Homo sapiens: one gene and its partners. Changing the gene in region 1 together with any one later gene gives a genetic interaction. Each region holds a gene or a part of one and is shown on either strand. Other genes may lie near its edges. The genes, in order: MAN2A1, ARL5A, SEC24A and VPS45.

Region 1 (5,787 bases):
GGGAGATTCAAACTAATTTGCAGACTGATGAAACTGAGACAGTAAAGAAGCAATGAAACATGATCTTATTGTCAAGATCCTTTGCAGAAAGAGGATTTCAAAGCACACTAACAGTAAGCAAAAATAACCTTTTCAACTTACCTTTCCCTGAGTAGTAGAACAAAACAGCCCTGTGCCTTTGCTAGAGAACCGACAATCAAACCCTTTTCTGTGGAGGATCAAGGCTGCCTCATTGGAGTGCCCATTGCCCACCTGCAAATGAGCAGAATGCAGTCACACCGCGCAGACAATAAAGCAAATATTTATGGTACTTCACACACCACTCTCTCGATGTCAGCATCCAAAAGCACATTTATTTAGCAAGAAAGTTAGGCAAATTCATTTCTCCTCAGGTCCATGCTCACTGCCCATTCACCTGCTACCATTCTCTCCTACTTGTACTGAGCCAGGTAAGATTATGTTCTAAGGTTCCTTGTTAGGTAACCTCATGCCTTGGTTTCCCCTATAATCCCCGAGGACTTAGGTTTCCTTATGTCCATACATTATATATTGTTTTATTAAAGTTTATTCAAATAAAGCATTATGTTTTCGTCTTATTTTTCAAACACACACATCAGTTGAATAAACTGCACCTGAACTTAGTCCTTATCTGGTCATTGAATGACATACCATCTAACTTAAAAGTCACACATGCTTCTTTATTGAACATTAATTTTTGCTAACTGCATTCTTAATCTTTGATGTACTGATTCATTATTTTTATATCAGAGCTATTTAAATTTAGTTATGCTTTCACTTGGTAGGCCAGCTCACATTTACCAGCTTGATGTATCATTTAAATTGATACTGCAGAAGCTATTGTTGATAGGCAGGCAAAAATAAAAATACTAAACATGACAAGTCAGCTAAGAGGGTCAGTATACCTTTTCTTGCAATAAAATTTCTCATATCCATTTAAGTATCAATGTCATGAATGGTTTAGGCCTCTGAATATTTTAAAATACAATTATCTTAATAAATTTTGTTTCCTAAAGTTGGAAGGTGTTTATGATAAATGAATTAAAAATCCCTGGAAAAATTAAGAAACATACAGTTTTTGAAAAGAGTCATGTGCTGCTCAGCACTGACATTGTGATAAAACTGATTCTTTCCTCTGTTCTCTGGCCACAGACAGGAATATGCCCAAACGCCTGATCATCCTCACTAGGGGATAAGATTTTTTAATGTACTAAAGAGACATCTTTCCTGAATAGCTGCCAGAATCTCCACCACTGATTTGATTTTAATGTGCCTGAACAGTTTAAAGCTGTCCTCACCTCAGAGTCTTGGCTGGAATAACCTATGTTATGATGTTTCACACTGATATTTTGTAGGGGTACTGCTAAGATTTTGTTTGAAGGAAGAGAAGAGTCATTTAAGGAATTCTGAGTCATCACAAGACCACATGATACACACAGCAATTTTAAATCATATGATAAAAATTTCTAATTCATTTCAATACATTTAAAACACCCTGCCCATGTACTATAAAAATAACACATAGGAAAACCCTTCATTTATGGTATCATTAGATCTCCAAAAGAATAAGAAACAGGACTCTATCATGTGCCAACTGTGAAACCTTAGGATAGTAATTTCTTCTTCCTAAATATCTATTTTCTTGCCTGTAAAATGGAGGTAATGCTTGTATTATTTCCTTCATGGAGTCACTGTGTGGATTAACCTGTTGAAAATACTATGTAAGTAGCTTCACACTGCCTTGTAGGGCAGAATGCGCTAGTGCACGAGCTGTGTAGTAAGAGTGGTTCAGAGCCTGAGTGGGGAGTCAGACAGCTGGAGATCTGGATCCTTGCTCTGCAATTTACTAGCTGTGGGTTTCAGCAAAACCAGGTTTTCCTTTTCCATAAAATGAAGATGAAATGAAATGAAATAGCTTAACAAAGATCTGGCCAAATGTCTGGCACACAGGAAGCCCTTAGCATAAATTTCCTTTATTTGACATTACAACTTTGTAGCTAAAGACTCAGGGAACTCCTAAATTATATGTCTAGAGTCGTACATCAAAGTCATAACAAAGTCTGGATTCAGATTAACAGATTAGAAACCCTCTTCATTAAGCTCTTTTAAAAGCACATATCACTACTAACCTAAAGCATTTGTCCATTTTAACTCATGGGTCCATCCTTACATATCACTTGATAGCATGCATGGCTAAAATTCCTGCAACACATTTGCTCTTGGAATAATGAATATGTAAGGCCTTTATAGCAACAGAAGGGGACAAAAAATGTGGGGAGGGAAACACCTTTGGAATTCTACATTTGAATTCTACAAGAGATTTAAACCGACAATACAAAAATAGAGATAAAAGTCATAAAAATTAACTTTCACTGATAGAAAAAGTTATACTTTCTCTCAAAACTAAAATTACATCACTTTTGTAAAAACGAACTGAAATAGCAATCATCTTGTCCAAGTTTTTAAAAAATCAAATATTCATGAAAGTATCAGTTTTCAAGCAAAAATACCTGAGGCAAAGCAGCAGTTTTTCAGTTTCAAAGTCTGTCTAGACATTTTATTTCCAAGAAAACTGTTTTTCAAAGTAGGGAAACTGTGAATTTAACTTGAATATGCATGCAGGAAAACAGATACCTTCAAGCAGTCACACTGTATGCTCTAGGAGAGTAAACAGATTTTGGAAGAACTGCTTTTACATTCATTAATGCATTAGTAATATCTGGACCCCATAAAATGGGAGGATGTGGGGAAGAAAATTTACAATTTTTGAAATTGTGCCAAGCACTGTGGTAGGTAACTATCTTTGTAAAACAGATTAGATCACTTTCGAGGCTGAATTACTGAAGTAAGGCTGGCGTATTCTAAAGTTGCACAGAGAAAACCCATTGCAAACTTAATTCAGGGGATAAAACCAACATTCAGCTCATAGACTAAGCTGGGCCTCTGAGGCTCTTCCAGCAACTTGGTGGAGTATGGGGAAAGATGATTTGGTTTGCAGAATGAAGCCATCAGATAAAGCTGGGCTTAGAGAAAGCTGGATCAGACCAATGATTTTTTCTACCATGAACCATTTATGTGACTTTGAGTAAACCTCTATAAATTCAGCAAGCTAAGCTGGACCTGTGAAGAGTCCCTCTGAAGACTGAGGGTCAACCGCAGTGACAATATCAGTCATTGCTAATACCTGTTGAGCACTTGCTGTGTGCCATATCCTGTACAGAATGCTTTTCATCAATTAACTCATTTTATCGCACAACAACCTTTGAAATAGTTGAGGTGATATATAAGTTTGTATTAAAATATGTAAATATACGAGAAAATCTCTATCACAAAGCATTCTCTCTTATACTCAAATAGCAATGACCACCAGTGATCCTGGATTAGCCCTTAGTCTTCTCCCGCCAATGGATGGGATATCCTCTGTAGGTGTCCTATTATTACTGAAGACACAAGAAAAATAGACAGTGTATTCCCTCACATTTTCAGTGCTCCCTCTCCCTTCTTGTTCCCATGCAAGACAGTATAAGGTTCTGAGAAGCCATCTGGACTCAGACACACCTGAGCGTGCTCCCAGGACCACATTACTGGCTGTGTGCCCTTGACAGTTATCTATCATATCTCTAGGTCAGTTACTTTCCTATTCTGTAAGATGGGATGAAAATATTGCCTACCTTCTTAGGGTTGTTGTGAGAGCTTTAAATAAAGTTCATGTAAAGCACTTGGCACAATGCCTGGCAAACAGACAATTTTAGATATGTTATTTTTAAATATCTGAGGAATTATTAACAAAGTATTAAGTTGGTGCAAAAGTAATTGTAGCTTTGCCATTACTTTTAATAGCAAAAACTGCAATTACTTTTGTACCAACCTAAAATATCAGGAATAAGTCAAAGTGACATCAAGATTTACTCTGGCAATGTTTTTACCTCATTATTAGTGACAACTGCCGTTGTTCATGACTGAACTATCACAGGTGAGAACCTTTACTTGTCAAGCACTCATAGGGCTTACTATGTGCCACATGCTGTTCTAAGTGCTTTACTAACACTAAAATTATCTCCAATCCTCAGAACATCTCTAAGGTGAGTATTATTACCATCTCCATGTTACTAAGGAGTAGCCTGACACTCAGAGAGTTAAGTGACTTGCTCTAAGTCTCATGGTTAGAAAGCAAAGGAGACATGCTCATACCCAGGACATCTGACTCCAAAGTTTAAGCTTTTAACAGCTTCCTTCTCCTACCTTTGCACTAGCTATGAATTTGTGCTCATAGATACCTAGCCAGGAGAGAAAAGATAAAAAATATTTTTGATGTAAAATAACAAAATACTGTAAACTAAAGGAGGTAACCCCTCCAATTTATGGCTGAAAAAGGAGAGTATTGACTGATGGTTCCAGCAGAGATAAAACTATAACTTATCAAAAAATATATCAATTCAGAAACCAAGCTTTGGAAATTGTAATTTCCTTCCATCTACCACCTATCCACCTATCCATTCACCCCACTTCAAATAGGATTTGAGCCATTCTGAAAATTATACACACATGACAGTCTCTTTTAAGGAAAAAAGCAGGTGAATAGTCCTCTACTGAAGATCTTAAGATGTGAGTTATGTCATTCCTCTCTCGCACCAAAAGAAACAGTAAACTTTTGGAAACTGTAGTAAACATTATGTGTGCAACCACCGTTTGTGGGGAAGAGAGGGGCCATAACTTTGGCCAAATTCTCCAGGATGCATGGGACCCCACCCTCTTCACACGGTTAGTAAGGTGCACATAGATTAAGGCACGGCTACACATCTGGTGGGAAAATTTCTCCAACCCACTCAGATTCTTTGAAAATACCTAACACTCATCCCTAGTGCATTCTGGCAGCTGGAAAGGTTAGAAAATTACATGCTTCATTATAAGTCCTAAGATGGTATTATAACCAGTAGAAATTCATTTTTTAGGGTGCTCATTAAAATGTCCAATAATAGCTATCCTGTTTTGATCAACAAGATAAAATGACAGAAAGAAAGGGAAGGTAAATGGCTGTTCTGAGATACGTACAACAAAGGAATTTTTTTTTCTCACAATTTTCACCTTTCCAGAAGCTAGGGAGATCAATAAAGCACCAATCAATTCTTATAAGAAAGACAAATAAAGTAAAATCCTCAAACTGCCTTTTATAAGAAAAGAAGAGGCAGAATGAACAAGTGGAGAGAGAAAATCTTATTCAGTAAGTGGTGCTGATATTGAAATGATGGTTAACTATTTGCAAGAAACAGTTAAACACAAATCAAAATAAATTACATAGAGAAAGAGTTAAGATATATATATATATCATGTTTATATAAAATAAATATGTCTAAATATAAAAGCTGTGGAAATAATCTAAAAAAAAAAAAAAAAGCTGAACTACATATCACATTTCTAAAGTATTCCAAGTAGAATGGCTCCATGAAGCTGAGCTTATCCAGCTTCCTCTTTGTCCCTCTATTCCAGGCTGAACCAGCAGCTCCAGCTTCAGAAGCCTGACTCATCATCTGTCCTCCCATGAGATCCTCCCTGCATCTTCTCTACCCAATCTCCCTTCTTCTTAAATAATGGTCCTTTCCTGATGACAAGGCTTTTGCATGTAGTGTATTTCAGTGGTGTTCATGTTCCCTAGGTTTCAAACCTTTACAGAAGCTTCTTTTTAGTATCTCAAGATCTTCATAGTGTAGGGGAAAGGTGTGATCAAGGAAAAGAGTTGAAAGACAGGCCAACAGAATAGGAAAGCTAATG
Region 2 (5,787 bases), on another chromosome or scaffold:
CTGTAAGACTGATGGTACTTATAGTAGATAAGATCTATTCTAGTTTTAACATCCATCATTTTGTATTATTTTTAGCAAAGCTAGTGTTTCATCTGCTGTGAGGTTTAGCAAGACTGTGAATTGAGCTCTAGTGCTGCCAGAAAAAGAGTTATCACCACTTTCTATTTTGAGTCAATGATAAAATTATTTGTTTCTGTAAGTTAAGAATAAATGAGAACTTTGCCAACAGCTCCTTGGAGTAGTAAATAATAAGGGTGTGTGCTCTGGTATCACTACAAATTGCTAATAGTAGTGTTTTTATAACCTGTATTTTGTGGTAATTTTTGACGGGACATTTATGGCAGTTTGGCGGAAATTAATAGAGAAATTAATGAAGTTAAGTTCTAGAAAATTAGATATGAATATTGTGAAAGTGTGAATAAATTATTTATTTTCTGCTAAACAGTGTGGCTGTCTTATCAATAGGGTCACTTTTCCGAATATCCACCATTTAATCTAATGCCAGATATTTGTTGGGTTTTGTTTTTGTTTTTGTTTTTTTGAGATGGAGTCTTGCTCTGTCACCAGGCTGGAGTGCAGTGGTGTGATCTTGGCCCACTGCAACCTGTGCCTCCTGGGTTCAAGCGATTCTCCTGCCTCAGCCTCCCGAGTGGCTGGACTACAGGTGCGTGCCACCACACCCAGCTAATTTTTGTATTTTTTGTAGAGATGGGGTTTCACCACGTTGGCCAGAATGGTCACCATCTCTTGACTTCGTGATCCACCCGCCTTGGGCTCCCAAAGTGCTGGGATTACAGGCCTGAGCCATGGTGCCCAGCAGGGTTGTTTTTTTTTTTTTCTGTATAGGACATATATAAGTTAGATATGTGTTGGATGCTCTTGTTTTACCTTCAGTGGATTCAGAATGCAATCTTACTTTCTTTTCATAGAAACTCTTGGAAAGTATGTTTCGGGAGATTACAGAATTTGCCATCTGATGAAACTTAAACTATGCAGTATCTCCTGTTTCTGAAACCCCTCGAGAACAGCTTTTTCAGTTAAAGCTCAGATTGAGTGCACAGTGAAAGCTATTTGTATACCGCTCGAACTAGAAAAACCAGAGGTCACATTTAGTTGATACTGAGATTCAGTAGAGTACAAACTTTATCCTAGATGCTGTCATTTAAATCATTTTATTTTATTTTATTTTATGTTTTAACAATCTTTTGAAGTAGTTATTTCCCCTGAAAAGGGAAAACTGAGGCTTAAGTGGAATGATTTTTTTTCCCCAGGCCATGCAACTGGTATATGCCAGAGCCAGGCAAGTTAAAACCCTGAAGGAATCTCTTAAAGAAGAGATTGACATCATTTTTCCCTCCCTCCTCCTCCCCCCATTAACTTTTTCAGTTGCTAATCTCTAAGTTGTCTTTAGAACTTCGAAAAGTTGCCATTAGTAACTTTTTTTTATAGAAGAGCTTGTGATCAGTGGTTTACTTGTTCTCAATAAACAAATATTTTAACACCTATTTAGTCCAGGAAGTGTTCTACATGGTGGGATAAGGGAACAAAACAGACAAATTCCACTGCCTTTATGGAGCTTTCATGTAGTGTTGGGAGACAGGAAATTAACTCACTTTGTCTCTACAAGTAAAATAATAGTGGTTAACACTTGTGCAAGGTTCACACAGGTTGTTTGATTTAATATTCACTTAGTTGATTTACTCTTTACAACAACCCTACAAGGTAGATATTATTCCCCTTATTTTACAGGGGTACGGAAACAGGTAACTTGCTTTAAGCACTATAGGTAAAAGTGATAGACCTGGATTTTAACCACGATTACGTAGTGCCGGAGTTATTTCTCCTACGCACACACACCTGGATTTTAACAAGATTATCTAGTGCCAGAGTTAGTTCTACACACACATGCACGCACGCACATTTGCACACAACTTCGTGTAAGAAGGACTTTGTATAAGAAGGACTCAGATAAAAAGAACTGACTGATGTGAACTATAAAAGAAGTTGTGGAATTTCCTCATTAATAGCCTTGTATTGCTCTCTTGGTTGGTTGCTAGAAAAGGAATTATAAGTATGAATGGGTGCAGGAGAAGCTGCCTGTGCTTCAGGAACCTGATGCTGAGGAAGCCACCTCTGTTTCTGGCTTATTATTGTTGTTATTATTATTATTATTATTATTATTAGGGAGTTTAAATGTGTAGAGAAGAGTACATATGGAAGCTGAGTAGCCAAGGGGTAGACTGTGTCTTAGCTTCTAATACAGATGCTCCTCAATTTGTGATAGTTGATAATTTGTGATAGATAGATAATTGAAAATACAGTAAGTAAAAAATGAGTTTAATATGCCAGACTTACTGAAAACCATGGCTTTAGCCTAGCTTGCTTTATACGTGCTCAGAACATTTATGTTAGTTTACAGGTTGGCAAAATCTAACCCAAAGCCTATTTTATAATAAAGGTTGAATATCTCGTGTAATTTATTGAATACTGTACTGAAAGTGAAAAACAGAATCTTTGCATGGGTACTCGAAGTATGGTTTCTACTGAATGTGTGTTGCTTTTACAACATCACAAGTCAGAGACCATTTGTAAACCCTTTTTGCATGCTCTGTGGAAGTGGAGCTAGGTCCTTTAAACGTTTTTCTTTTGCCACTGGGCAAAATGTTAAGTTTTGTCAGTAGGCTGCACTGGAGAGGCATTGTAGGAGGAAAGGGTGTTTGTACTTAGTTATAGTGTGCTTTCTTGACGGGCTCTGCTTGTAGCATGAACACCGTCTCCAAGGCCTGGCTCTTGTACTGCATAGTGGTCAGCAGCAGCCAACAGCTTCCCCTAGTACCCGTCTTAGTTGGTTTCATAATGGAAGGTCTCCAGTGAAATACCTCTCAATAAACAGTTTTCCTCAGCACCGAAGAGGGAGGATTTTTGGGCAGGTTCCACTGGCACCTCACCACAGCTACTTCTCTGCCATTCAGTGAGCCACTATCTGTGCCCTCCAACGAGATCTGCATCTTAAGTCTGGAGGGAGGGGGAGGACCTTTATCTCAACCCTAGGGATAGTGAGTGCTTCTTAAATTTGACATTCCCATAATCTTTTAGCCAATCTCTCATTACTCCAGTCCCCTGTAATATTTTTTTGATGTTGAACTTTCCAAGTTCAAATTATTGTGTGATTTCTGCCTCCTGATTGGATCTCTAATTTTGCCATGTGTAATCATTGCTTTTTTTTTTCAGCAACCTCATAGTGCAAAAGAAAATTTGGTTATTCCCCTGAAACTTAATTTACCATTACTGTAATAGCAAGTTTATTTTCAAACTTTCTTTTTATTGTTAAGACTTTTAAGTTTTAAAAATTGAACTTTTAATACAAAACGACTTAAGCAGATATCTCTCTCCTAACCTTTATATTTTCCAGATCTGATTTATTTATTCATGAAAAATATTAAGCTCATGCTTTATTCCAGGAGCTGTCCTATGGACTAAGAGAACTATAGTGAATATGACAAATGGAATTTTTTGCTCTGAGAGACATAGAATTAATAGGGCTTAGTGATAGTTCAGATATGAGGTAAAAATGATGAATCAAGAGGACTCTCCATTTATTTGCCCTGGTGTTTTTGTGTTTTCTGATGTTGTATGATTCACAGAGATAGTAATTCTCTACAATAACAATTATTATTATGCTTAATTTATTGACTGATGAGTTGGGGGAATATATATTAACTTTTAAAAACTGGCAATGAATGGAACTGGTAGACTGCCTGTGTCAAAAGGAAATGAAGGAAAAGGGAAACAAGAAGCAATTTTCATGACAAAACAGTAAAGTATTGATTGGTATGTTAAAGCCTAATTGGTAACTCACAGTTCCATCAAAGCATTAGAACAGTGCAGTTGTTGTGGCTTATTTGAGTAAATACAGGAATGCTGTGACATAGTCTAAAAGAAAAATCATACTAAGCAGTAAACTTCTGATGATTCTTGTGCATCAAAGAGTTGGAATGGCTGAAAGTTTTATTGCATTTGTCCACAATAACATTCTTGTAGTAGGCATATTGGGATTCTATGAAGTCTTTATTTCGAAGTGCATTATAGCACTTTTTGGCTACAAATTTACATTTTGTATAGATGCTTTTCCATCTTGCTAATGAAAGGAACAGGCTGTGGTGGTGAGAGTAAGGATGTTCAGAGGAAATTGATCTACTATTAAAAACTTTGTGACTAATCTGACCCTATTATTGAGATGACACGTTTGTCTTTGAGCCCATTGCACAGTTTGGTCTTAATTTTATAGTTCTCATTGTGACCCACATGCTATGTCTTAGATTTAGGAAGCTATTAAAAATGGTCATTGGTGGCCGGGACGCAGTGGCTCATGCCTGTAATCCCAGCACTTTGGGAGGCCAAGGCAGATGGATCACCTGAGGTCAGGAGTTCAAGACCAGCTTGGCCAACATGGCAAAACCCCTATCTCTACTAAAAATACAAAAATTAGGCCAGGCACAGTAAACTTCTGATGATTCACGTGCAGGTGGTTCACACCTGTAATCCCAGCACTTTGGCAGGCCGAGGCAGGTGGATCATGAGGTCAGGAGTTCAAGACCAGCCTGGCCAATATGGTGAAATCCTGTCTCTACTAAAAATACAAAAATTAGCTGGGCGTGGTGGTGCGCACCTGTAGTTCCAGCTACTCGGGAGGCTGAGGCAGGAGAATCCCTTGAACCTGGGAGGCAGAGGTTGCAGTGAGCCGAGATCATGCCATTGCACTCCAGCCTGGGCGACAGGGCGAGACTCCATCTCTAAATAAATAAATATAAATAAATTAAAAAATTAGCTGGGCATACGGCGAGACTCCGTCTCAAAAAAAAAAAAAAAAAAGAAAAAAAAAAAAAGAAAGCCGGGCATGGTAGTGCCTGCCTGTAGTCCCAGCTGCTTGAGAGGCTGAGGCAGGAGGAGAATCGTTTGAACCTGGGAGGTAGAGGTTTCATTGAGCCAAGCTCACACCACTGCACTCTAGCCTGGGCAACAGCGAGACTGCGTCTCAAAAAAGTCATTGGTGCTTTATTGTGAAAATACAAAAAAACTCAAATAGAGCTACGTCTTGGGAGGAAGCAACTAGAACTTTGTAATGAATGTAGTTTGTAGGTGTTTGGGTGGAGTAAGGAGGTAAAGATCCTCTGGATCATGGATTCTTCATTGGAATGGCCCTCCAGAGATCTCAGACCACATGACTACATGTGGTTTTTTTGGATATTTTCCAGGTTCTGCTTATGTTTGATTGGAGTTTCTTTCCTCCTTTTTGTTTTTGAAGTATTTTAACCATTTGGTAAGAATATGATATGTTCAAATATATTAGTTTGGTTTCCCTTGATTGACTTTAGAAATCTGCTTAGGTCTTAAGAGTTTGGGGGCATGGTTGCATATTTATGCATTTGTAAGTATATAGGAATTCATTGAATTTGTAAAATAGGTAGGCAGAAGAGTAAGATTGTAGTGTGGAGAATGGCATGAGCAAAGTTAAATGATTGGAAAGTTTATGACATGTTCTAGAGACTGAGTAGAGCAGCTTTTCTAAGTTTTAGTACGTAGGTCAAGAAGAGTTAGGGGAAGATTTGGGCTAAGGCTTAGCTAGCTTTGTCACACTCATCCTTTTTCATCATGTTTATCTAATGATCTTACCTGGATTTAGTTATTCACTTTCAGGTGCAGACAGAAGGTTATGGGTCCTCCAAAGCTTCAGACCTTGGCTAATTTCTCTCCTCTTGTTCATAGCCATTTTACCTTTCATCTTTC
Region 3 (5,787 bases), about 25 Mb from region 1:
CACACCCAGCTAATTTTTTTTGTATTTTTAGTAGAGACGGGGTTTCCCCATGTTGGCCAGGCTGATCTCTGACTCCTGACCTCGTGATCCGCCCGCCTTGGCCTCCCAAAGTGCTGGGATTACAGGCGTGAGCCACCGCACCTGGCCTCTTTTTCTTTAGGTAGTTTTGATTTTGATAATTTTTTTTCATTGTGTACTGCTCCTTAGAGGTTTTTAATGCAGCTCTCACAACTGCTGAAATCTTTCAGATGGTATATAATTTTATAAACTTCATAAAGAACCATCTTTTGCTAGAAGTTATTTTGCTGGAGTAGGTTTTGAAAAAGCCTTGTTATTTGGGCCTTTGGCTTAGGTACAATGTAAGGTGAAAAAAGACTCTTTCCAAAGACTCATGTTTCCTTTCCCTGAAGTTGCAGCTAAATTACTTGAAACTATCGTATATGTAAAAACTTGGATTTTTTATGTTGTTAATAGGCTGTGGTTTTAAATTATTTGTTGTTTAGAAAATTATTTAAAATTTTGGATATTAGTTAAAATCATACAGAGATTGTAATAATCATTCTAATTAAAATCTTGTTGATGAACTTCCTTCTTAGGTATTACATCAAATACCAATAACGGATCTATGGTGGTCCACAGTAGTTACGACGAGATTGAAGGAGGTGGCTTATTGGGTGAGATGCTATGAAAGTTTTTTTTTTAATCTCTTTTTTCTGATTATAGAAATAATATGTGGTAATTGTACAAATATATAGGAAACTAAGAGGGAAACTTCATAATCATGTAGCCATACATACTATTAACTTATTTATTTATTTATTTGGACACAGGGTCTCACTCTGTCGCTCAGGCTGGAGTGCAGTGGTGCGATCATGGCTCACTGCAGCCTCAGTCTCCTGGGCTCAAGCAGTCCTCCCACCTCAGCCTCCTGAGTAGCTGGGACCATAGCCACGTGTCACCATGCCCAGCTTTTTGTTTTTGTTTTTGTTTTTTGAGACTGAGTCTCGCTCTGTTGCTTAGGCTGGAGTGCAGTGGCAGTATCTCGGTTCACTGCAGCCTCTGCCTCCTGGGTTCAAGTGATTCTCCCACTTAAGCCTCCCAGTTAGCTGGTATTAGAGGCACCCGCCACCACACCCTGCTGATTTTTGTATTTTTAGTAGAGACAGGGTTTCACCATGTTGGCCAGGCTGTCCTCTAACTCCTGACCTCAAGTGATCTGCCCGCCTCGGCCTCCCAAAGTGCTGGGATTATAGGCATGAGCCACCATGCCCAGGCCCTGGCTAATTTTTGTATTTTTTGTAGAGGCAGGGTTTCACCATGTTACCCAGGCTGGTCTTGAATTCCTGGGCTCAAGCGATCTGCCCATTTTGCCTCCCAAAGTGCTGGGATAATAGGCATGTGCCATAACATCTGGCTCTATTATTTAACATTTTTTATTTCTATGCATTAGATTTTTTGTTAAGTTTTTCTTCTGTCAGAATTGGGATCATGGATTTATTATTATTATGTTTTGACTATAGAGTACTTTTAGGATTTTTTTTTTTTGAGACAGGGTCTCTGTCACCCAGGCTCAAGTGCAGTAGCACTGTTATAGCTCACTGTAGCCTCAAACTCCTGGGCTCGTGCGATCTTCTACCTCACCCTCCCTGAGTAGCAGGGACTATAGGCATATGGTACCATGCCAGGCTAGTTTTTTTATTTTTGTAGAGATGGGGGGGTGGGTCTCAATATATTGCCTGGGCTGGTCTCGAACCCTTGGCTTGAAGAGATCCCTCCTGCCTTGGTTCCCCGATTTGCTGGGATTACAGGTGTGAACCATCTCACACGGCCCATTTAGGATTTTTTTTTTTTTTTTTTTTCTGAGATGGATTCTTGCTGTGTCGCCCAGATTGGAGTGCAGTTGTGTGATCTTGGCTCACTGCAACCTCCAACTCCCTGGTTCAAGCGATTCTCCTGCCTCAGCTTCCCGAGTAGCTGGGATTACAGGCACGTGCCACCACGCCCAGTTAATTTTTGTATTTTTAGTAGAGATAGGGTTTAACCACGTTGGCCAGGATAGTCTCGATCTCCTGACCTTGTGATCCACCTACCTCGGCCTCCCAAAGTGCTGGGATTACAGGTATGAGCCACCTCGCCCTGCCAGGATGTTATAATTAAAGTTGTTTTGAATTAAAATTTTAGTCTGAATACAAAATTTAGTACATGATATGAAAGTAAATTAACTGTTCTTTTGTTTTGTTGTTTTTGTTTTTGTTTTTGTTTTTGTTTTTGAGACAGTTTCCCTCTGTCGTCCAGGCTGGAGTGCAGTGGGCACAATCTCGGCTCACCTCCACCTCCTGGATTCAAGCAGTTCTACCACCTCAGCCTCTCAAGTAGCTGGAACTACAGGCACATGCCACCACATCTGGGTAATTTTTGTACTTTTTAGTAGTGATGGGATTTCACTGTGTTGGCCAGGCTGGTCTCCAACTCCTGACCTCAAAGTGATCCACCCACCTCAGCCTCCCAAAGTGCTGGGATTACAGGCATGAGTCACCACACCCAGCCGACATGAAAGTAAATTAACTGTGCAAACTAGTTTTTGTGTCTACTACTATAGTATAAAATATTAACTAGTGTAAATCCATTAACAAGATTTTTGGCCGGGCACGGTGGCTCATGGCCTGTAATCCTATCTTCGGGAGGCCAAGGCAGGCAGATCACCTGAGGTCAGGAGTTTGAGACCAGTCTGACCAACGTAGTAAAACCCCATCTCTACTAAAAATACAAAAATTAGGTGGTGTGGTGGCACACACCTGTAGTCCCAGCTACTCGAGAGGCTGAAGCAGGAAAATCGCTTGAACCCGGGAGGTAGAGGTTGCAGTGAGCCAAGGTTGTGTCACTGCATTCCAGCCTGGGCGACAGAGTGAGACTCCATCTCGAAAAATAAAATGATAAATAAAATAAAATAAATAGATTTTAGTCATTGCTATTTGTTACTGGTGTTTGTCTTATTTTAAAAATTTGATAAATGAAAGTATTAAATTATCCAAAGAATTTTGGAGTTATAATACCTATAACTTATTAGATTTATGTGTTGATTTAAAGCATTCTGGGCCAGGCATGGTGGCCTACGCCTGTAATCCCAGCCTGGACAACATGGTGAAGTCCCGTCTCTACAAAACATACAAAAACATTAGCCGGGCATGATGGCACACACCAGTCATTCCAGCTACTTGGGAGGCTGACACAGGAGGATCACTTGAACCTAGGAGGTTAAGGCTGCAGTGAGGTGTGATTGCACCACTGCACTGCAGCCTGGGCAATAGTGAGACCCTTTCTCCAAAAAAAATGTTTTTTTAAAATAAATAAATCAAGTATTCTGGAGTATAAAATAGAACTTAAAAGTTACCTTGTTTCTAGCAACACCACAGCTTACTAACAAGAATCCCAAAATGAGCCGAAGTGTTGGATATTCATATCCCTCCTTACCACCTGGTTATCAGAACACAACACCACCTGGTGCAACTGGAGTACCACCCTCTTCCTTGAATTACCCAAGTGGGCCACAAGCCTTTACTCAGGTAAACTTTTTGGGATTTTCTTTAACCTATTTCTCCATTTGGTTTAAACTGTATACACATGAAGAAAGTTTTAGGAAGGTATATTATACATTTTTATAACCATTTAGAATAATAATGGATATTTCATAAAGCCTTTGTCTTTATACATTTTTCCAGAACCAAAAGATTGGCCAAGAGATCTAGATTACACTTTTGTTATTTACAGAGAAATTAACCACTTCCCTACACACTTAATAAAAGTTACTTACTTTAAAATTATGTATCTGTAGACTCCCTTAGGTGCTAATCATTTAACCACAAGCATGAGTGGATTAAGTCTACAACCAGAGGGTCTAAGAGTTGTCAATCTTCTTCAAGAAAGAAACATGCTTCCGTCAACACCTTTGAAGCCTCCAGTTCCAAATTTGCATGAAGACATCCAGAAACTCAACTGTAACCCAGAGTAAGGCTTCAGATGTGACATTATGCATGTCCGAAAAGTTTTCTAGCTTTTTGCAGGGGGCACATCAGGTGTTATGAATAAGCTGTACAAATTATTAATTTATGAAAGTTCTGGATACAGATGATAGAACTCTTTTACTTGTTTACTTAATAGAGATTTGAAAAGTCCTACGTCAAGAAATAGGGATGTAACTCCTGAAGTGATTTTGTTCTTATCAGCTCTAATGAGATTATGATATTCATTATCATTATGGTGGTTACTTTCTTTCTTCAAAATCCAAAGTACAGGGATTTGTTTCTACATAATCCTTTATTTGCTCTCATTTAAAATTAATTTCATAACAAACATAATACCTTTTTTTCCTAAAAACTTACCATAAGCTTAAATGTATATGATCAATAATTTCTGATAAATTAAATTTGGTACCTTTAAATTGTATTTAGAATCTTCAGCAAAACTGAACTTTTAAATAATAGACTTTGCAATTTGGGCCATCACCTAAGTTTAATTTAATTCCAGTGTCAACTAGACTTACAAAACAAAAAATAAGTCATTTGATAGTTTAGACTGTTTTACACACAAGCCAAAAAGAGACTATATTTTAGTTATAGGATAACCATCCACTCTATTTCTGCATAGGACTTAGATTTAAATATTTAAATGGGATAAAATTTTGAGACTCTATTGAAATATTTCATCTGTAATCTGATCCAGTATTAAAATGTATACCTTTTAAATCTTTGTTGTTGTTTTCTTCAAAAATAATCATAGCAGCAACTGATACATACTTTTTACTTTGATATAGGTTATTTCGATGCACGCTGACTAGCATTCCTCAGACGCAGGCCTTATTGAATAAAGCCAAACTTCCTTTGGGGCTGCTGCTTCATCCTTTCAAAGACTTAGTGGTATGTTTCTTTTCTTTTCTTTTTTTTTTTTTGAGACGGAGTCTCCCTCTGTCGCCCAGGCTGGAGTGCAGTGACGCAGTCTCAGCTTATTGCAACCTCTGCCCTCCATGTTCAAGTGATTTTCCTGCCTCAGCCTCCCTAGTAGCTGGGATTACAGGTGCCTGCCACCGTGCCTGGCTAATTTTTGTATTTTTAGTAGAGAGGGGGTTTCACCATCTTGGCCAGGCTGGTCTTGAACTCCTGACCTCGTGATCCACCTGCCTTGGCCTCCCAAAGTGCTGGAATTACAGGCGTGAGCCTCTGCGCCCGGCTCTTTTTTTTTTTTTTTTTTTTTTTCTGAGACTGGGTCTCACTGTCGCCCAGGCTGGAGTGTAGTGGCGAGATCTCGGCTCACCGCAATCTCCGCCTCCCAGGTTCGGGCAATTCTCTTGCCTCAGCTTCCTAAGTAGCTGGCATTATAGGCATCTGCCACCACACCCAGCTAATTTTTTTATTTTTAGTAGAGATGGTGTTTCACCATGTTGGCCAGACTGGTCTCGAACTGACCTCAAGTGATCTGCCCACCTCCCAAAGTGCTGGGATTTATAGGCCTGAGCCACTACACCCGGCCTCTTTAGTGAAGGTAAATGTCTTTTGTGCAAAATTATCTTGGTGATGAAAATTTTCTGCAATGATGCAAGAATTACATATAGAATTTGTTTGATCTGTCTTTAGGAAGTCGATGATTGACAGATTACTTACAATTCAACCAAAAATTTTATTACTAAACACTTTCAAATACTAGGTAAAGTAAGTATATTGCTGGAAAATTCAAAAAGTACTGAATAGAATAGAGGTACTGAGAGAAACTAAATAAATGAATCATACTATTTTA
Region 4 (5,787 bases), on another chromosome or scaffold:
CTGCCTCCCAGGTTCAAGTGATTCTCCTGCCTCAGCATCCTGAGTAGCTGGGATTACAGGCATCTGCCACCACGTCCAGCTAATTTTTTGTATTTTTAGTAGAGACAGGGTTTCATCATGTTGGCCAGGCTGGTCTCAAACTCAGGACCTCAGGTGATCTACCCACCTCGACCTCCCAAAGTGCTGGGATTATAGGTGTGAGTCACCGCGCCCGGCTCTTCTTTTTTTTATTCTTTGCTATTATTCATATAAATCATTTTATTTATTTATTTATTTATTTTTGGAGACGGAGTCTTGCTCTGTCGCCCTGGCTGGAGTGCAGTGGCATGATCTCAGCTTACTGCAACCTTCGCCTCCTGGGTTCAAATGATTCTCCTGCCTCAGCCTCCCAAGTAGCTGGGACTACAGGTGTGTGCAACCACACCCGGCTAATTTTTTTGTAGTTTTAGTAGAGACGGGGCTTCACCATGTTGGCCAGGTTAGTCTTGAACTCTTGACCTCAGGTGATCCAGCCACCTTGGCCTCCCAAAGTGCTGGGATTACAGGCGTGAGCGACCGTGCCCGGCCAGATTGAGTGGTTTTAACAGCAGTATTTTGATAGGTGAAGATGGGAAGAGAAGGTATTCCAAACATTCTAGAGTTTAGAAAGCAGTCACAGTAAAAGCATGCTGGCAGGAAACCATGTGGCATTATCTATGTAAGTGGTGAACTCTAGGTTTTATAAGAGGTTTAGCCCACATTGTGAAGGCTCTTGGATGCCAAGTTCAGGAGTTTCTTTTTAACCTAGTAGGCAAATGGGAACCAATGAAGTTTTTTAAGCCAAGAGTAATAAGATAGAGCTGTGCTTTAGGAAATTGTACTTGTGGAACATTTGGAGTGAGAAGAAATAAAAAGTAGGGAACGAAGTAGATGACTATTTCAATATTCTTGCAAGAGATTAGGATCTAGACCAAGGCAATGGCTGTAAGCATGGAAATGAGGAGACAGAAGGAAACACAGGGAAATAGAATCTACAGAATTAAGAAGCTGTCTTGATTAGGGGTGGAGGTACTGGCAGAAAGGTACAGGAGAGATGAAGCAGAAGAGTTATGATGACAGTGGATGGAAGAATCATGATACCAAAACACCAGGAAATACAAAGCAAAACCAAGAATAGCTAAAAATAAGGAGGCAAATAAATGGACCATGTTTTTACTTCCCTATCTGTATTTTGATGAATATCACTTAAAATTATCCTTCTATTATGCCAAGAAAGGGTTTTGTACCTGGTTTAGCAATGGGGTGATGGCATCATCACAGCGATCTAAAATAAGGAGCAATGGAGGAACCTCTGTCCGACGGAATTCAAACAGTTCATATTCTTTAGTTATCACTTGCTGTGGGTGAGAGAGAAAGATGGTTTGTGCAACCATCTAGTTACATATAGAAATGATATAAATAGGAAATTAATAAACACTACATTTAACAATAGTTCTTTGCACCCACATAGATCTTCCATATGAAGGATTCAAAAGTCTCACAAAGTTTAGTAGCATACTATTTAAGAGGTTAGGATATGAAACCCTATTTTATAAGTGGTTTAACTGGACCAAAAAAAGTTAAATAGCTTGTGAATGTTTCTTGGGTTAAACCTAAGAATCTTAGCTCTAATTGTTGCTTTTTGTTTTAAATTACATATACCTACCTCTTTTCGCGGAAACCTAACATACAATCATCTCCTTGGTTGTAAATAAACTATTCCTTTAGTTTCTGAAATATGATAGAGAAATGAATGGCCTTTATGTTTTGGAACCAGGAATAGGTAATGCCATACCTTAACGCACTCTGCAAGTCTCTTTGCTGCCTCTGATGAGAGCTGATAACGAATCATGGGACACTTCTTCAGAGATAAAAGGAGAGCTGTAAGCCCTTGAGTTGTTCTAGATAGCTGGGCTGGATCCCAATTTCGACCCTTTTTGTTAAAAACATATATTCAGAGAAAATATTTGAATTTTCTCTTACAAGTCTAATTATTTGCTGAATTAACTCTCGACTGATAAATTAAACCTTTCCTTCCATACCTGGCAGCAACCCAAAATATTGAGGGAAAACAAATGTGGGTTCACAGCAATGTAATCACCATAAAATTCCTGCAAATAAAGCACCAAGAATAGTCATTCCATAAACTTCAATTGTATCAAGCAGTAATATTTTCATAAGTGATATAATATGATATAGCCAAACTTTGTGAAATACAGGTGTAAAGAGATACTAAATTGTTCAATTAATAATTGGGTAACAACAGTCAACGTGGGAGAATTAAAATAATTACAAAACAGTAGCAATAATAATAAATCTAACAAATAAAGGTTGTAAGGTTATACACATTATATTTCTGGAGACCTCTATGCATACTTATCAATTAGTAAAAATAAAATACTGCTAATAGGAGATACAATGTTCTACTCAGATAAAAAAGAACTTTGCTGTCCAATGTGTTGTCATGAGAGAGAATATAATTTAAAACAGGTATTCTTTTTATTCATTTATCACCTATCACATCCTTCTGAAAAATTCAAAACTAGTTTATTTGCTGCCTCTGAAAACAATATTCCTCATTTATGTGATAAACATATTCAAGTATTCATAATAAAACTTCTTTTGAGACAGACCTTTCCTTATTTTTTATTTTTAGACTCAAATATTTAAAAAGGGCCAACATACGAGATGTGTTACAGGACCAATATGTTTACCTGAACCTCAGCCACAACTTCCTGTTCATCAGCTTCAGCCAATGACTTCACGTCACTCTTGCTGATCACATTACTGAAATCTGAAACACATGAGTTGGGGTTGACTCAAAGGAGATAATTTCTGCTGCAATATATGTAAAAGGGCCTGATAGTTAAAGCCTAATGAATAAGTGACCTTCAAATTGGAATGGGTAGCAAAAATATATTTAATCCACAAATTCATAATTTTATATATATATATATATATATTTTAAAAGGACTGGCCAGGCGCGGTGGCTCACACCTGTAATCCCAGCACTTTGGGAGGCTGAGGCAGGTGGATCATGAGGTCAGGAGATCGAGACCATCCTGGCTAACACGGTGAAACCCCGTCTCTACTAAAAATACAAAAAAAAATTAGCTGGGCGTGGTGGCGGACGCCTGTAGTCCCAGCTACTCGGGAGGCTGAGACAGGAGAATGGCATGAACCCAGGAGGCAGAGCTTGCAGTGAGCCCAGATCAGGCCACTGCACTCCAGCCTGGGCGATAGAGGAAGACTCCATCGGAGGAATTGGAGAATGAGAATACTAGGGAAGTAAGTCATTTTATTGAAAATAAGGAGAAAGAAGTAAACTTTCATGCTGTCTTTTATATATAAACTGTACTACCAGGTAACCAAATAGATGAGGGAAAATTTTTCTTTGTGAAAACATTCCAGCTCAACAATAACTAACAAATGTTAATGACAGAATTAGAATATCATCATTTTTTCTAACCCCCAATGAATCAATTGAATGGACCCAGGCATTGAGCATCAGCAGCTACTAATATCAAAAGAATAAGCAGCCAATGAAAGCACACAATACCACCTATAAAGTATTCTTGCCAAGAAGAAATCAAATCTTAACCTAATTAAGGCTCTGTATTCACCTATGAATTTACAGGAACTAGAAGACAGAGGAATATTTTAAACTTCAAGGAACATGTTAAACTACCCCCTGGGGATGCAATCAGCAAGATCCAGTCTGTGGAAAACTTAACAGTTTCTTCAATAAATAAATTGCATGGGGCAGCAGGGGCAGGGGTGGGAGGACCTATACAGAAGATTAAGAAACTTAACATATCAACCAACAGCAATGTGTGAACCTTACTTTGATCCTGATTTTAAAAAACTGTAAAAAAAAAAAAAAAAAAAGACAATTTTAAATTTGAACGCTGAATGGTTATTTGAAAATGGTACTAAGAGTTCAAGACCAGCCTGGGCAACATCACTTGAACCTGGGAAGTTGAGGTTACAGTGAGCCGAGATCATGCCACTGCACTCTGTCTGGGTGACAGAGGGAGACTGTGTCTCAAAAAAAAAAAAAAAAAAAAAAAAGAATAAATAATTATTTTTCACTTTTAATCTAGATGTAATAATGGAAATGTGTTTTTTAAAAAAATGAGTCCTTATCTTTTAGAGATGCCTACTGAAATACTTATGGATAAAATTATATAATGTCTTAGATTTGCTTTAAAATAATATTGCTGGAGAAGTAGGTGACAGTATAGCTAAAACAAGATTGGGTGAGGCTCAATAATTGTTGAAACCAGCTGATAGGTACATTGGAACTTATGATACTATTCTACTTTTGTATGTCTTTAAAAGTTCGGTGCGGTGGCTCACACCTGTAATCCCATCACTTTGGGAGGCCAAGGTGGGCAGATCACACATGGAATTACCATATGACTCAGCAGTTGCACTCCTGGGGGTTATTTACCCCAGAGAATGAAGACTTAATGTTCACATAAAAATCTGTACACAGATATTTATAGCAGCTTTATTTGTAATAGCCAAAACTGGAAATAACTCATATGTCCTTCAATGGTGTATAGTTAAACAAACTGTGGTACATTCATACCATGGAATACTACTCAGCAATAAAAAGAAATGAACTATTTTTAAATTAAGAAAACTTTTTTTTTTGCAGTTCCAGCTCAAAGGAGGAATGAACTATTAATACACACAACAGGTGAGGTGTGGTGGCTCATGCCTGTAATCCCAGTACTTCGGGAGGCTGAAGCGGGCGTATCACCCAAGGTCAGGAGTTTGAGACCAGTCTGGACAACCAACACGGTGAAACCCTGTCTCTACTAAAAAAAAATACAAAAATTAGCTGGGCGTGGTGGTGTGTACCTGTAATCCTAGCTACTCGGGAGGCTGAGGTGGGAGAATCGCTTGAACCCGGGAGGTGGAGGTTGCAGTGAGTTGAGATGGCGACACTGCACTCCAGCCTGGGTGACAAAGCAAGACTGCTTCTCGGACAAAAAAAAAAAACAAAAACAACACACACACACACACAGAACAGCCTGGATGACTCTCCAGAGAATTATGCTGAGTGAAAAAAGCCAGTCCCAAAAGATTATATGCTGTATGATTTCATTTATAGAACATTCTTCGAATGACAAAATATAAAATGGAGAAAATATTAGTGGTTACCAGGGTTAATGAGGGGGTTGGGGTGGGACAGAAGTCCATATAAGCTAATAAAAGGGATCCTTATAGAGATGAAAATGTTGTGTATCCTGACTGTATCAGTGTTAACATCTTGGTTGTGATATTGTACTATCATCATGTAAGATACTACACAGGGGGAAGCTGGGTAAAGGGTATCTGGGATCTCTGTATTATTATTCGTTGTTTTTTTTTTAACTGCACATGAATCTACAATTACTTCAAAATAGAAAGTTTAATTTTAAAAAGAAAACCTGTGACTATTAGCCAAAAACAAACAGACAAAAACAAACAAAAATTAAGTTGCCACAGATTAATAAAATTGCCTATTTTTACCTCTTGGGGCGTCGTGCACTGAAAACCCACTGGACAAGCTTTATGTAACTTTTCAATTCTACACAGAACTGAATGAAATAAAATATGAGAGAGCTCTTATATATATATAGTCTTTTCGCAAATGTTAATTTTTTGTATCATTATTCTATTTAAGTAGTATACGCTGAAGAAAGTATGTACGTCTTAGACTGTAGTCTAAACCCTAAAACTCTAATACCTTTAAGTAAGCTTTAAAACTTCTCAAAT

The links.
Region 2: changes in MAN2A1 (region 1) and ARL5A together harm fitness more than expected from each alone (negative genetic interaction), as found in Homo sapiens cells (one large-scale study listed by BioGRID).
Region 3: changes in MAN2A1 (region 1) and SEC24A together harm fitness more than expected from each alone (negative genetic interaction), as found in Homo sapiens cells (one large-scale study listed by BioGRID).
Region 4: changes in MAN2A1 (region 1) and VPS45 together harm fitness less than expected from each alone (positive genetic interaction), as found in Homo sapiens cells (one large-scale study listed by BioGRID).

Annotation. Positions count from the first base shown.
Region 1 is NC_000005.10:109,859,501-109,865,287, reverse strand, and holds part of MAN2A1 (alpha-mannosidase 2), read right to left. Parts: intron 253-5,787; coding exon 142-252; intron 1-141. UniProt on the Homo sapiens protein: Catalyzes the first committed step in the biosynthesis of complex N-glycans. It controls conversion of high mannose to complex N-glycans; the final hydrolytic step in the N-glycan maturation pathway.
Region 2 is NC_000002.12:151,820,875-151,826,661, reverse strand, and holds part of ARL5A (ADP-ribosylation factor-like protein 5A), read left to right. Parts: intron 1-5,787. UniProt on the Homo sapiens protein: Lacks ADP-ribosylation enhancing activity.
Region 3 is NC_000005.10:134,671,213-134,676,999, forward strand, and holds part of SEC24A (protein transport protein Sec24A), read left to right. Parts: intron 1-596; coding exon 597-674; intron 675-3,402; coding exon 3,403-3,563; intron 3,564-3,832; coding exon 3,833-4,005; intron 4,006-4,810; coding exon 4,811-4,913; intron 4,914-5,787. UniProt on the Homo sapiens protein: Component of the coat protein complex II (COPII) which promotes the formation of transport vesicles from the endoplasmic reticulum (ER).
Region 4 is NC_000001.11:150,073,258-150,079,044, reverse strand, and holds part of VPS45 (vacuolar protein sorting-associated protein 45), read right to left. Parts: intron 2,813-5,787; coding exon 2,733-2,812; intron 2,130-2,732; coding exon 2,061-2,129; intron 1,952-2,060; coding exon 1,814-1,951; intron 1,377-1,813; coding exon 1,266-1,376; intron 1-1,265. UniProt on the Homo sapiens protein: May play a role in vesicle-mediated protein trafficking from the Golgi stack through the trans-Golgi network.